Homo sapiens: one gene and its partner. The protein of the gene in region 2 purifies or fractionates together with the protein of the main gene of each other region. This does not show direct contact. Each region holds a gene or a part of one and is shown on either strand. Other genes may lie near its edges.

The links. The genes of interacting proteins can lie anywhere in the genome.
Region 1: the proteins of SCFD1 (region 2) and SCFD2 purify together in Homo sapiens (affinity purification with mass spectrometry; 2 studies listed by BioGRID and IntAct, with this or other methods). This does not show direct contact.

The regions. Positions count from the first base shown.
Region 1 is NC_000004.12:53,272,051-53,279,082, reverse strand, and holds part of SCFD2 (sec1 family domain-containing protein 2), read left to right. Parts: intron 1-5,081; coding exon 5,082-5,257; intron 5,258-7,032. UniProt on the Homo sapiens protein: May be involved in protein transport.
Region 2 is NC_000014.9:30,632,296-30,639,327, forward strand, and holds part of SCFD1 (sec1 family domain-containing protein 1), read left to right. Parts: intron 1-1,651; coding exon 1,652-1,742; intron 1,743-5,829; coding exon 5,830-5,952; intron 5,953-7,032. UniProt on the Homo sapiens protein: Plays a role in SNARE-pin assembly and Golgi-to-ER retrograde transport via its interaction with COG4. Involved in vesicular transport between the endoplasmic reticulum and the Golgi.

The sequences.
Region 1 (7,032 bases), on a different chromosome or scaffold from region 2:
TATTCTGTCCATTACTTTTTCAACACTTGTCTAGTTGCTTGCTGTTTTAGTTTATATAAACTAAGAAATTTTACTTCAGTGGTTAGTCTTACTGCAGCATTTTTGATGGTCAATTAGTTGATTTCCATTTGCTTTTGGTAAGGTTATGGTTAAATTTAAAAATTTTAAAAATGTCACTGGCCTTTTTTTTTTTTTTTTAGAGCATCTGTGTGAATTACTTTTTAACTTAAATTCCAGTTAGCCTCTTAGGGATTTTTAGGAAAAAAAAATCTGCTGTCGTGATTTATACCTAACGAAGGAGTAGTGTCATGAGTGTGTAAAAAACGACATACAAAGGGGAATAGAACAGAGTAGAGAAGGTGAATAACTACTAAATCTGCAAGGAACACAAGGTAGTGTGGTGTTGATATTTTCTGTTAGGAGATATACCCATTTGTTCCTTTAGATCATATGCCTTATATGAGAAGGTGACGTTACATAAATATGGTAGCTGAGTCTGGGTCTCAGCTAGGAAATGCTGATTGGATAAAAAATTTGACTTTTTTTTTTTTTTTGAGATGGAGTCTCACTCTGTCGCCCAGGCTGGAGTGCAGTGGCACGATCTTGGCCACTTCCCAGGTTCAAGTGATTCTCCTGCCTCAGCTGCCTGAGTAGCTGGGACTATAGGTGAGCACTACCATGCCCAGCTAATTTTTCTCTTTCTTTTTTCTTTTTTTTTTTTTTTAAGATGGAGTCTCTCTCTGCCTCCCAGGCTGGAATGCAGTGGTGCAATCTCGGCTTACTCCACCTCCCGGGTTCAAGTGATTCTCCTGCCTCAGCTCCTGAGTAGCTGGAACTACAGGTGCCCACCACCACTCCCGGCTAATATTTGAATTTTTAGTAGAGACAGGGTTTCACCTTGTTGGTCAGGCTGGTCTCCAACCCTGGACCTCGAGTGATCCACCCACCTCGGCCTCCAAAAGTGCTGGGATTACAGGCGTGAGCCACTGCGCCTGGCGAGGACTGTTTTTTTTTTTTTTGTTTTTTGTTTTGAGACGGAGTCTCGTTCTGTCCCTGGGCTAGAGTGCAGTGGCCGGATCTCCGCTTACTGCAAGCTCCGCCTCCCGGGTTCACGCCATTCTCCTGCCTCAGCCTCCCGAGTAGCTGGGACTACAGGCGCCCACCACCAAGCCCAACTAATTTTTTTGCATTTTTAGTAGGGACGGGGTTTCACCGTGTTAGCCAGGATGGTCTCCATCTCCTGACCTCGTGATCTGCCCGCCTCGGCCTCCCAAAGAGCTGCGATTACAGGCGTGAGCCACCGCGCCGAGCCTGGACTGTTTTTTAATCAAAGACACTTTTATCTTTAAAATGAACATACGGTTATTACAATAGAAATCTGAGCAGATCCTCTGATGGCTTCCTCTGGTGATTCCCGTTTCCTGGAGTCTCTCTAAAACATAGTTATAGAAGAAATGAATTGTATATATTTTGAATCTATTTAATTCCTCTTCTTTCAGTTGAGGAGATGGGGTTGGAGAGGTAGGCAGTTTTCATATCATGTAGAGCCTTTCACACCTTCAAGACATTTTGTATTTTTCTTTGGCAGTACTTACCACTATCATGATTAAGTAATTATTTGTATGATCATTAAATGAATGTTTGTCTTGATAGACTAAGTTCTATGTGTTTAGGAGCCACACTGCCATCACCTGCAGTACAGTGTTTATATAAATAAATGGAGCTCATGGCAATCTTAAGTTTTGAAACCATTTTGTGTGAAAATTTGTTCTTACATATTTAATATAATAGATGTCAGAGAATATCATTTCTTAAAAATGTTAATCATTTGCACAAAAGGTCCCTATCCCTTTAGAGAGAATGACACGTAAGAGGCTGAATTAATTAGGAGATCATCAAGGAGTTGTTTTCTTTATTTGTTGGCTACAAGCATAGGGGTTTTTGTCTGGATTTGTTCACAGGTTTATTCCTAGAAACAGGAATAGTGCCTGTTACAGAAATATATGTTGAATCAATGAATCAATAAAAGTGAATGACACTCACAACTCAGTAATAAGAAAACAAACAACCTAATTAAAAAATGAGCAAAAGATTTGACCAGACACTTCACCAAAACAGATATAGGATGGCAAAAGACACACATGAAAAGGTGGTTAACATCATTAGTCATTAGGAAAATGAAATTTTAAACCACAATGAGATACTGCTACACATCTGTTAGAATCATTAAAATAAAAATAGCTGACAAAACCAAGTGTTGGTGAAGTTGTAAGGCAACTAAAACTCTCATATGTTGCTGGTGGTACAGCCCACTTTGGAAATCAGTTTGCCAATTTCTTATAAAATTAAACATGTGCTTAAACTAAATACTGCATGTTCTCACTTATAAGTGGGAGCTAAATGATGGGAACACATGGACACTAAGAGGGGAACAGCTGATATTGGAGCTTACTTGAGGGTGGAGGGTGGGAGGAAGGAGAGGATCAGAAAAAATAACTATTGGGTACTAGGCATAGTACCTCGGTGACAAAACATTCTGTACCACAAATCCCCATGACACGAGTTTACCTATATAACAAACCAGTACATGTACCTCTGAACCTAAAATAAAAATTAAAAAAAAATAACTAAATGAAACTATAAATGTATATGTGGGTCAGTACCAAGAAGTTTTTTTCACAAACCCCTAAGTATCTGATTTCCACTCAAGTCTTTTAAACTTGTTTGATGTTGCTGAGTAGCAGAGGTCTTTTATTTTCCACTTTTTAACGTACCTAAAAAGCATGAACCCTGCATTTCAATGGACTGTATTGTACGCTTTTTTGCTATAAAACTTTTTCATCAAACACAATTACATTGTTCAATTTTGTTGTAAACTTAACATAAGATGCACTGTTGATATGCTTTCTGATATGTTTGATAAGAGTGATAAAATAAAGCTTAAGAATTAAAAAAAAATTAAAAGTAAGCATATACTTAACATCTGTCCTAGAAACCTGCTCCTAGAAATTTGCCTAAAGGAAAATGAAACATATGTATACACACACACACACACACACACACAAAGACCTGTACACAGATGTTTGTGAAGGCTTTATTCATAATTTCTAAAAAATTGAAAGCAACCCAAATACTCATTAACTAGTGAATAGATAAATAAATGGCTAAATAAACTATGATACATCCACACAATGAAATATCACTCAGCAAGAAAAAAGAGCAAACTACTAATACAAGCAGCAACGTGGATGAATCTCAGATACATTATGGTTCAGTGAAAGAAGCCAGACTCAAATGGCTACATACTATGTGATTCCATTTATGTGACACTCTAGAAAGACAAAACTGTGAGATGGAAATCAGATAAACACGGATAAGGGTTCATCAACCAACAGGGCTGGAACTAGGGAAAGTGAATGGACTACCAAGAAGGGGAGCTGTTTGGAATGATGGGAATGTTCTGTATTTTGACTGTGACAGTGGTTATCCAACCATATCCATTTGTCAAAATTCATAGAACTGTACACTAGAAAAGGCTGAATTTTACTGTATGTAGAAAATACCTTAATAAACCTGATAAAGAAACAAAGTATTAATGAGGTTTTTTTCTATGAGTACTTGAGCAAGCAGATTGTTAGCTTGCTGCTTTGAGAATCAGGAACAAACCCATGCTTTACCAAGGGACCAAAGAAACTCATGAGACTCACCCTCCTACTTATTCCCACTGTTCTTTTTCTTTAAATGCTTACCCTGATAAACTGGTAATGAAGAACTTAAACATTCTTTATCTCTTCAAAAAAATTAATGAAAAGATAGAAAGATATGTTGTAGGCTTTTGAGTTTCATGTGGCAAGGTCTTTACTTTTAGCAAAAACCATTTATTAAGTGATATCTGCCATTTAGCACTGGGTAAGACATTACTTTCTTAGCACGTCAGGCAGGACTAATAGATGCAGCACAAGCCTCGTTTTCTACCTCAAGGAGTTGCCATGAGAATCAGTAAAGGGTGTGTTTGTGTAAGCACTGTGTAAATTGCTAAATAAATGCAGGTGGTTTCATTGCCAAATACTTAACAAGCAAATAACTTGGATTTCAGTTTATAACAAGTTTATAACAAGCAAATAAACTTGGATTTCAGTATCAAAGAACAACCCACAAACATGGCATGGGTGAAACATATAGGAATGAATTACTTGGCTTACATCTATGTTTGGCCCCATTGCCTTTTTGCCTGGTGGGGAGAATCCGATGTCCAAGAGCTTTGCGCATAGCATGGAGGAATGGCAGGAATGAAATTTTACAGACTGGAGAGTGGGAGGAGACTCGGTGGAAAGACAGCTATTGGCAAAACTTGGAGTTAGGGGCTCTGAAGGAGTGAATCCTCAACAGTTTGTGTGTTTGTAGATGTACAAGTGTTTGTATAGTCTCTATGCTTTTATGAGGTAGGCTCTCTTGTTCTAAATGTAGGTGACCATTGTAGCAAATGTGCTGTTCCCCACACCAACCCTTTCTTCTGATACCTCCTCTTCCAGTGGTTTTGCACTGTAGTTCTTGATACATTTTTGTTCCATGTAACTGCTTTTATCTCACGAATATTGTCATGAACTCACTGATATCAATGGTAAAGTTTTAGATGAGAAATAATCTATTTCTCATCTTCTTTTAGGTACATACACACACAATTAGAAATCTTATCTTTTTCCCTCTTAGATTGCTATGTCATATGTCATAAAGAGGTACTCCAAGTTGAGCTCAACAAATATTTATTTGTGTGACTTTATTTGAAAATTTATTTACAGAGTATTACATAATGATAAAATGAATTCTACTGGCAACATGACCTTGGCCAGATCCCTTAATTAGCATCCCTGTTTCCTTACTTGCAAAATGCAGGTATTAATAATAGGACCAGTTTTGCTCTTGTCACTATATAGTTGTAAGAATCACAATAGCTTAGGAAAGCTTGCAGTCAGCTCTGAAGTTCTGCCCAAATACAAGACAGTGGTATTATTAATGGAATCCTTCTCATTATTTGTACTATTCCCAGAAGGGGGTACACTGATAAATTCTTATGTTTCCAGGGAGAGTCACACCGGGACAGCTCATGTCCTATATTCAGCTCTTCAAGAACAACCTCAAAGCTCTAATGAATCATTGTGGCCTCCTCCAGCTTGGACTGGCCACAGCTCAAACGTTGAAACACCCACAGACTGCCAAGTGGGACAACTTTCTGGCTTTTGAAAGGCTCCTTCTTCAGGTATGTTGCTATGGGAACCTCGTGGGATCTTAATAATTAATGTTTTGACTTCCAGAGAAAAACCTTGACATTTATTATAGCCTTAGTAATAAATCATATTGTTGACATGTGCCCTGCTTCATATTCTCTAAGTGCCCCCTAGTTAAAATTCAAGTAGAAACTTTTTTCACACCTGTTTAAAAAAAAATTTTGACAGTAACATCTTTGGCTTCTCATTTAATACCAAGGATGTTTTTTGAGCATTGGACTAACCTCTGGACACCTCTTTCAATTTTATGCCATTTGGACCTTTCTTGCTCTTCATGGCATCTTTATTTGATCCTTGCTACTTTTTCTGTAACATATTATCGCTATTTACATTTCTTCTGACATTACCTAGTTTCTAGTCCTTAAGCAACATATAGCATGTGTCTTAAAATGGCGTTTAGTAAAAAATGAAGGAAGTGATCTCCATTTGTAGTGTTTATACAGATATTTGTATGTGGGATAGGAACTTTTCATGACTGATGAAATATTTTCATGGGAAACTTTTAAAAAAATATGTAGTATGTGTTTTTTAAAATTATGAAGTATTTTTAAAAATTATACAGTACTTTAAAAAGGACAGAGGATTGTGAAGCATAAATGTACATAAAATGGCAAGTATCTGTAAACTTTCCACATAGACTCAATATGATTTATCATTATTTTCATATTTATCATGGATCCTTTTTCATTAAAGAAATAAAACTAGAGATAAAGTTGAAGCATTTTTGATACTATATAACCATCTCTAATCTGATTTTCCTTTTTCTTTCCCTAGAGATAATTACAAGCTCAATTCACTGTTTTTATATTTTTATTAGATGTTTGCTTTCTCATAAATAATATAGAGCATTTATGCTATGGGTTTTAATTTTACATAAGTGATATTATACTATAAATATCCCTAAATAGCTTGCTTTTTTCTCTCAAGGTTCTATTTTTTTTTAATTATACTTTAAGTTTTAGGGTACATGTGCACAACGTGCAGGTTAGTTACATATGTATACATGTGCCACGTTGATGTGCTGCACCCATTAACTCACGTCATTTAACATTAGGTATATCTCCTAATGCTATCCCTCTCCCCTTCCCCCCACCCCACAACAGGCCCCGGTATGTGATGTTCCCCTTCCTGTGTCCATGTATTCTCATTTTTCAATTCCCACCTATGAGTGAGAACATGCGGTGTTTGGTTTTTTGTCCTTGCGATAGTTTGCTGAGAATGATGGTTTCCAGCTTCATCCATGTCCTTACAAAGGACATGAGCTCATCCTTTTTTATGGCTGCATAGTGTTCCATGGTGTGTATGTGCCACATTTTCTTAATCCAGTCTATCATTGTTGGACATTTGGGTTGGTTCCAAGTCTTTGCTATTGTGAATAGTGCTGCAATAAACATACGTGTGCATGTGTCTTTATAGCGGCATGATTTCTAATCCTTTGGGTATATACCCAGTAATGGGATGGCTGGGTCAAATGGTATTTCTAGTTCTAGATCCCTGAGGAATTGCCACACCAACTTCCACAATGGTTGCACTAGTTTACAGTGCCAACAGTGTAAAAGTGTTCCTATTTCTCCACATCCTTTCCAGCACCTGTTGTTTCCTGACTTTTTAATGATCGCCATTCTAACTGGTGTGAGATGGTATCTCATTGTGGTTTTGATTTGCATTTCTCCGATGGCCAGTGATGATGACCATTTTTTCATGTGTCTTATGGCTGCATAAATGTCTTCTTTTGAGAAGTGTCTGT
Region 2 (7,032 bases):
TCTTCAGTTGTATAATGAGCATTTGTTAATAGACTGTTATAGTTTGTCAATTCCAAATGTCCTTTTTTACATTTCTGAAATTAGGATCTATCTTATCACTGATGATATGTCATAACTGGCAGCATTTTTATTTCTCAGTAGTATATAAAATATATTTTAAAAATTATGTTTTAAAATTGTTACCACCTTGGGTTTCATGAAATACGGTATTTGATGAGTTTTCCTTTCATTTTTATGTCAGACTGAAATAAGCAGGTTTGCTTTGATAATGTGTTAATTTTTATGGACTGAAGTAAAGTTTAACTTCATGCTATCCTTGGAAATTGTGGTTTATTAATAAACATTGAGTGCCATTGTCTCTGTACTAAGTGTTTAACTCCTTTATTTACTAATGGAAGGACTGAAGTTTAGAAGGCTTAAGTGATTGTCTCACATTTGTACAACCAGTTAATAACAGAGCCATGGCCACATTGCTTGACCACTAATTCTGTGCTGTTTATCTACTGAACTGTAATGGCTCAGTAACAGTAACTAACAGAAGTGAGGCCTTACTCAGTACTTCATTCAGGGGTAATAGGATAGTCTACCAGTTTGAGAGTCTCGTAATCTCTGCCTAACTTGCTACTTGCCACCAGAGCATGGAAATATTACACAGCTACCATGGTGAACTCTTGTGTACTTTGCCTCCAACCATTCTCCTCTATTTGCTGGAGAATACTGTATCAGTTACTTTATACCCTGCAAGCTGGTTTAGGCTAATTTGTAGGAAACAGTAATTACAAGTTTCCACAGTATGAAATGGTGGTTGTAGCCCATTAGACAGTTGGACAAGCAGTGTGAAAAAGACCACAACCTATGGCAGCCATCACATTATCATTCTTGATATCAGTGGCAACAGTTATTAAACACAGACTCACTGGCAGCATGTGCCTCTTTCCTCTCTCTCCTTGATTATAGAAGGATGACTAGAGAGAGGTGAATATTCCTCATATAAGCATGGTTTGATGTTGGGATATTTGTATGGAAATTGTTCCTAAATTGTAAAAGGAGAAAACTGTAAAATGACTTAATCTATAAGATGCTTACATTCTCTTATGAAACAATAAATAGACAAAAATAGATTGTCTTTAATTTTTAAGGAAACATTTATATACCTTTCATTTAAAAAATATATTTGATTTCATGTTTGGTTAAATTTTTTTATAGCTTCTAAAGAATTGCTTCTAAAATTTTTTTCATTGCGTCCCCTAGCTTTCTGATTTTCCCCTCAGAGAGCCACACTTTCCTCACATTCACCCTTCCCCTCTGACCACCACATTTCTATGAAAAGTGGGAATAAGATTGATTCTGAATATGTTTTAGTTCTCATTCAAGGAGAGTGTTGGTAGAAAAGAATGTCTGACCATAAGCAGTGCTAAAAGTGTGAGCAGAATAGAACAAATGAAGACTAACAAGAAATTAGGGTCTTACTAATGCTAATAAATAATAACAACACTGACATGGGAGAAAGATAGGTTAACTCACTGATTAATTGCAACAAGAGCTTTTAGAGCACTGGTTACTGTCCTTGAGCTAGTGAACTCCCATTTTGAGGAATATTGTTTTAAATAAGTGAATAAAAAAATAAGTTTTAGTTCCTTATGTCTTCTAGGCTTTTACACTCTGATCGAGATCCTATTCCAGATGTTCCTGCAGTATACTTTGTAATGCCAACTGAAGAAAATATTGACAGAATGTGCCAGGTAATATGGGTTCTTATTTTCTGGACTCCTGAATTTGGAAATGGATTTTTTTTTCAAGAAAAATTCCTAGATGTCCAGGGTGAAAAATCAGAAATTCCTATGCCTACTTTCTCACTCTGATTTTTGAGACTATCTTTGAATTCCAAATAGCCTGAAAGACTTAAAACTTTTGGCTGAAGAAGTATTATACAGTAGTCCTCTCATGTCCACAGTTTCACTTTCCACAGTTTCAGTTATCCACAGTTAACCAGGTACTGAATATATTACAGTATTTTGAGAGACCACATTCATATAACTTTCATTACAGAATATATTTTCTGTAATATATTTCATTACAGAATATATTTTATAATTGCTCTATTTTATTTCTAGCTATTGTTGCTAATCATTTACCGTGCCCAATTTATAAATTATAAATTAAGTTTTATCATAAATATGTATGTATAGGAAAAAACATATACGGTTCAGTACTACCTGGTTTCAGGCATCCACTGGAGTCTTGGAAAATAACCCCTGCAAATAAGGGCAACCACTGTACTGGTAAAGTCTGAGTCTGGCTTTAACAAACAGAAAGCCTAGGTATATTGCCTTTCTAACTTATATAGGGTTTTCCTTTTCTAAAATAAGGGTGAGATTAGGAAGTCCACACTGGTGCAGAAGTACTATAAGGTAATCAAAGACCCAGGCTCCTTCTGTCGCTGATCATTCGTCTTTAGTTTGTTGGTTTTCCTTGTCTTGCTTGTCGCTGCGCCTGTAGGCATCAAATCTATGTTCACATCAACAAGAAGAGGGACATGGACTGTGCCAGCCCTGACTGTTGATTTTGATCAGGAATTTAAGCCTTTCCAGAAACTCCCAGAAGACCTTTATTTATTTCTCACTAGGTAGAATCAGTTACAAGGGTGGCTGCAAAAGTCAATATTTAGATGAGTCACCCCAAAGAAAATCTAGCAAGATTCTTTTAGCAAGGAAAAGGAGAAAAGTAGATATTGGATAGGTAAGTAACAGTGTCTTCCACAAGTCACAACATCTTTGTTATTGACTGTTGAATCAAATTGCTATTTAAATTGTTAGTGACGTTTGCAAATTTTGTGTCCTGTGTAGCTTTATGATGCCCAGCTTTCTCTTTTACCCTGCGTAAACTCAAGTATGCTATTCATGAAAGAGGTACCACTTGCAATCTCTTCTTCTTTCATTATTTAAATAACACCTTTATTGAAATTATAATTTACATACCATACAATTCACACATTTAAGGAGCACAAGTGTATGGTTCATTGGTTTTTAATATAGTCACAGAGTTTTGCAACCATCACCACAGTCAATTTTAGAACATTGTCATTACCTCAAAAAGAAACCTGGTACCATTTATCACATCCTCAACCCTCCCCCATCCTCTTCCATCCCTAAGCTACCTTCTGTTTCTGTATATTTGCCTACTCTGACCATTACATATGAATGAAATCCTATAATATGTGGTCTTTTGTATATGGCTGATTTCTCTTAGCATAATGTTTCCAAGGTTCATCCATATTGTAGCATGAATTGGTACCTTATTCCTTTTCGTGGCTGAATATATTCCATTGTATGGATGTACGAAATTTTATTCATCCTTTTACCACTTGATGGACATTTGGATTGTTTCTACCTTTTGGCTATTAATAATGTTGCCATAAATATTCATGTGCAGGTTTCTCTGTGGACATGTTTTCAATTCTCTTGTGGCCGTAAACACATAGGAATAAAATTGCATGGTCAAATGATAACTCTATGTTTACCTTTTTAGTAATAGACTGTTTTGCGAAGTGTGGTTGCACCATTTTATATTCCCACCAGTAGTGTGTGAGGGTTCTGATTTCTCCAGATCCTTGCTGAACACTTACTATCCGATATTTTTATTGTAGCCATCCTAATAGGTTTGAAGTGGCATCTCATTATAGTTTTGATTTGCATTTCTGTAATTAATGATATTAAGCATCTTTTAACATGCTTATTGGCCATTTGTATGTCTTTCTAGAAATATCTATTCAGATCATTCACCCAGTTTTTAATTGGGTTGTCTTTTTATTGTTGAGTTGATAGAATTCTTTTTCTGTTTTGGATACTAGACACTCACAAGTTTATGATTTGTAAATATTTTCTCCCAGTCTATGGGTTATCTTTTCATTCTCTGGATAATGTCCTTTGAAGCACAAACATTTTTGATTTTGATGAAGCCCAGTTTATCGGTTTTTTTTTTTCTTGAGTTGCTTATGCTTTTGGTGTCATATTTAGGAAACCATTCCAGATTCTTGTGTTTTCTTCTAAGAATTTTATAGTTTTGGCTCTTACCTGTAGGTCTTGATTCCCCTTTGCATTATTTTTATATATGGTGGGATGTAGGTGTCCAACTTTATTCTTTTGCATGTGGCTATCCAGTTGTCCCAGCGTAATTTATTAAAGAGACTATTCTTTCCCTAGTGAATGGTCTTGGCAGCCTTGTCAAAAATCAGCTGACCACAGATATCTTGTTTGATTTCTGAACTCTCAGTTCTATTGCATTGATATCTATGTCTTTCCTTATGCCTGTACCACACAGTGTTGATATCTCTTGCTTGATAGCAAGTTTTGAAATTGAGAAATTGTGTCCTCCAACTTTGTACTTTTTTTCAGACTGTTTTGGCTTTTCTTGAATTTCCAAATTACGATTAGCTTGTCATAAGTTTTGTGCTTCTTTTGTTAAATTTATTCTTTCATGTGTTTAATGCTTATTATGAATGGAATTCTTAATTCCATTTTTAGGATTCTTCATTGCAATTGTATAAAAATTCAATTGATTTTTATGTATTTATCTTGTATCCTGCAACCTTGCTGAACTTATATGTCCTTTTGAAATGTATGCATCATTCTTTGACCACTTCCTTACTTTCTGGCACAATAAGATGTTCCAATATAGCCTAGGATTTTACTTTCTCTGTCTCAGCCCAGGATTCAGACATTTTTCTGAGGAGCTCTGGTTGCTTTCTGTAAAGAATGGTATTTAGGAATCAGGATCTAGGCATTAGGTATATTCATTGTGACTAGAGTGTCACTGTTCTTAGGTCCTCTCAATGGAAAAAGTTAGGAAATTATGTATTTATACATACACTTTTATATCTGTATTTATTTCTACAATTCTCCCTCTCTTCCCCTCACCTATCCAGATAAACAGATAACCTCCAAAACTGTTTCAGCTCAGCAACACAGGATTCACTCTAGCGTTTCCCTTTTCTCTTTACAAATTTGTAACTCCTTTCTCAGAGTGAAAAACATGGTTCCCAGTATCGTGAACATATTACTTATTTCTCAATCCTCATACATAAATAATTTCTTGACCTTGATTGAACCACTACCCTGATCACCTTCCTCACAAAGGCTCCAACCCCTCAATGTTTCACATTTTAACATCGCTAAAATCAGGTGCATCTTAAAATTGATCATGCCACAAAATTTTATTGGCATCATTAATTCTTAGTGTTACATAAAATGATGGTTCTTGTTACAGTCAATGACATCTTAGATTTAAGGAAGTATGGTTATTTCGATATCTATTTGCTAAAAGTATAAGAAGATAAGTAAATTTGACTTAAGAATTTGCATAACTTAAATTGCACTACTTTTGAGCAGTTGAAAAGAAATACCTCTAGAATTGGTAATTGGATTTATAACTTGTCTGTGTGCAATGAAGGATTTGTTGTGTCATCACATGTCCAGAACAGTTGAAGATCGTGTCTGCCAAATATAACAAGCATTTTACTATATTAGTGGACCATATCTGGATATTTTAAGAAGAATGCAGATAGGCTGTATGAAAGCAGTTTGTACTGTATTGTAATTAATGAGATTTTGTTGATAATATAATTTTATTACTTTATTAAGAAACATTTTAGTTACATCTGATAACCAGATAACCAGTACTACTTCAAAGGTTTTTTCTCTTGGGATACTTTTTTTGATTGTCATTTAAATATCCTGTCTTTTAAATATAACTTTGCCTTATAGTAGTTGAAACATATGTATTCATGGTCTTCTTTATCCTATAAGAATAAAGTTTTCATTGTATTGATAGGATCTTCGAAATCAACTATATGAATCATATTATTTAAATTTTATTTCTGCTATTTCAAGAAGTAAACTGGAAGATATTGCAAATGCAGCGTTAGCAGCTAGTGCAGTAACACAAGTAGCCAAGGTAAGAGAGTTTGGTGGGTTGATGACATTTTGTCAATGTAAAATTTAACACTGTTCTGAAACCCGTAGTTGGCATAGATATCTATTTGACAGATGACCAGAACAACAGAATTGTTTAGGCTCAATACTTTTATAAAGAGTTCTGATAATATAAATTATATTCAAGTTGAACTAGGCAAAATAAGCCAAACTAAAGGAACCTATTATTTAATGAATTTGAAAGACAGAAATAAAAAGCAGAATGAGTTTTGCTTTAGTCTGTGATTTGTATAATATTTTTAGGTCAACTCAGAAATCATTTGACAGTTGTATTGTCATAAACTGTATTGAAAGTATGTTGACATTGTTTTATCTGTAATCATTATAATCATCATACTATTTCCAGATATTTTTTTTACTTAGGAAAGAGGATCCAAAGTGCCCGTGTTGCATATTGAGATCCAAAGTGCCTCTGTTGCATATTAAGAGAAAAAGAACCCATGACAGGCCTGCAATTCTACATCATAGTGACTTTTTAGTCAGGTTCAGCTTCAGTTATAAATCAATTTGTAAAATATATTTCAGGTTATAATCCTGTAATGCTCTGTGTTTCTTGAATTTGGACAAGATATGCATTAAAGTTCCAGACAACTATCTAGGACAAATAAAAGACTAAACAACCATGCATATACTTTCTATTCTTTTTCTACTGATAGATTTTTCATTGTTAGAGTTAAATAGACCACTAATATTTCTGATTAGTTTTTGAGGCTTATGCCTTTAATCTTTGTGCTCAAAATTTATTAACTTCACATAAAATAATGGGAACAACTTTTGTTTTCCTTCTTGTTTTGTTTTGAGACAGTGTCTCGCTCGCCCAGGCTGGAATGCAGTGGTGCAATCACTGCTTGCTGCAATCTTCAGCTCCTGGGCTCGTACCACCCCACCCAGCTAATTTTTTTAATATGTTGCCCAGGTCTCAAACTTCTGGCCTCAAACAGTCCTCCCACCTCAGCCTCCCAAAGCTCTGGGATTACAGGTGCAAGCCACCTCACTCAGCCTTAATTTGGTTAACTAAATTCAGTGTATTTCAAATAGTTCT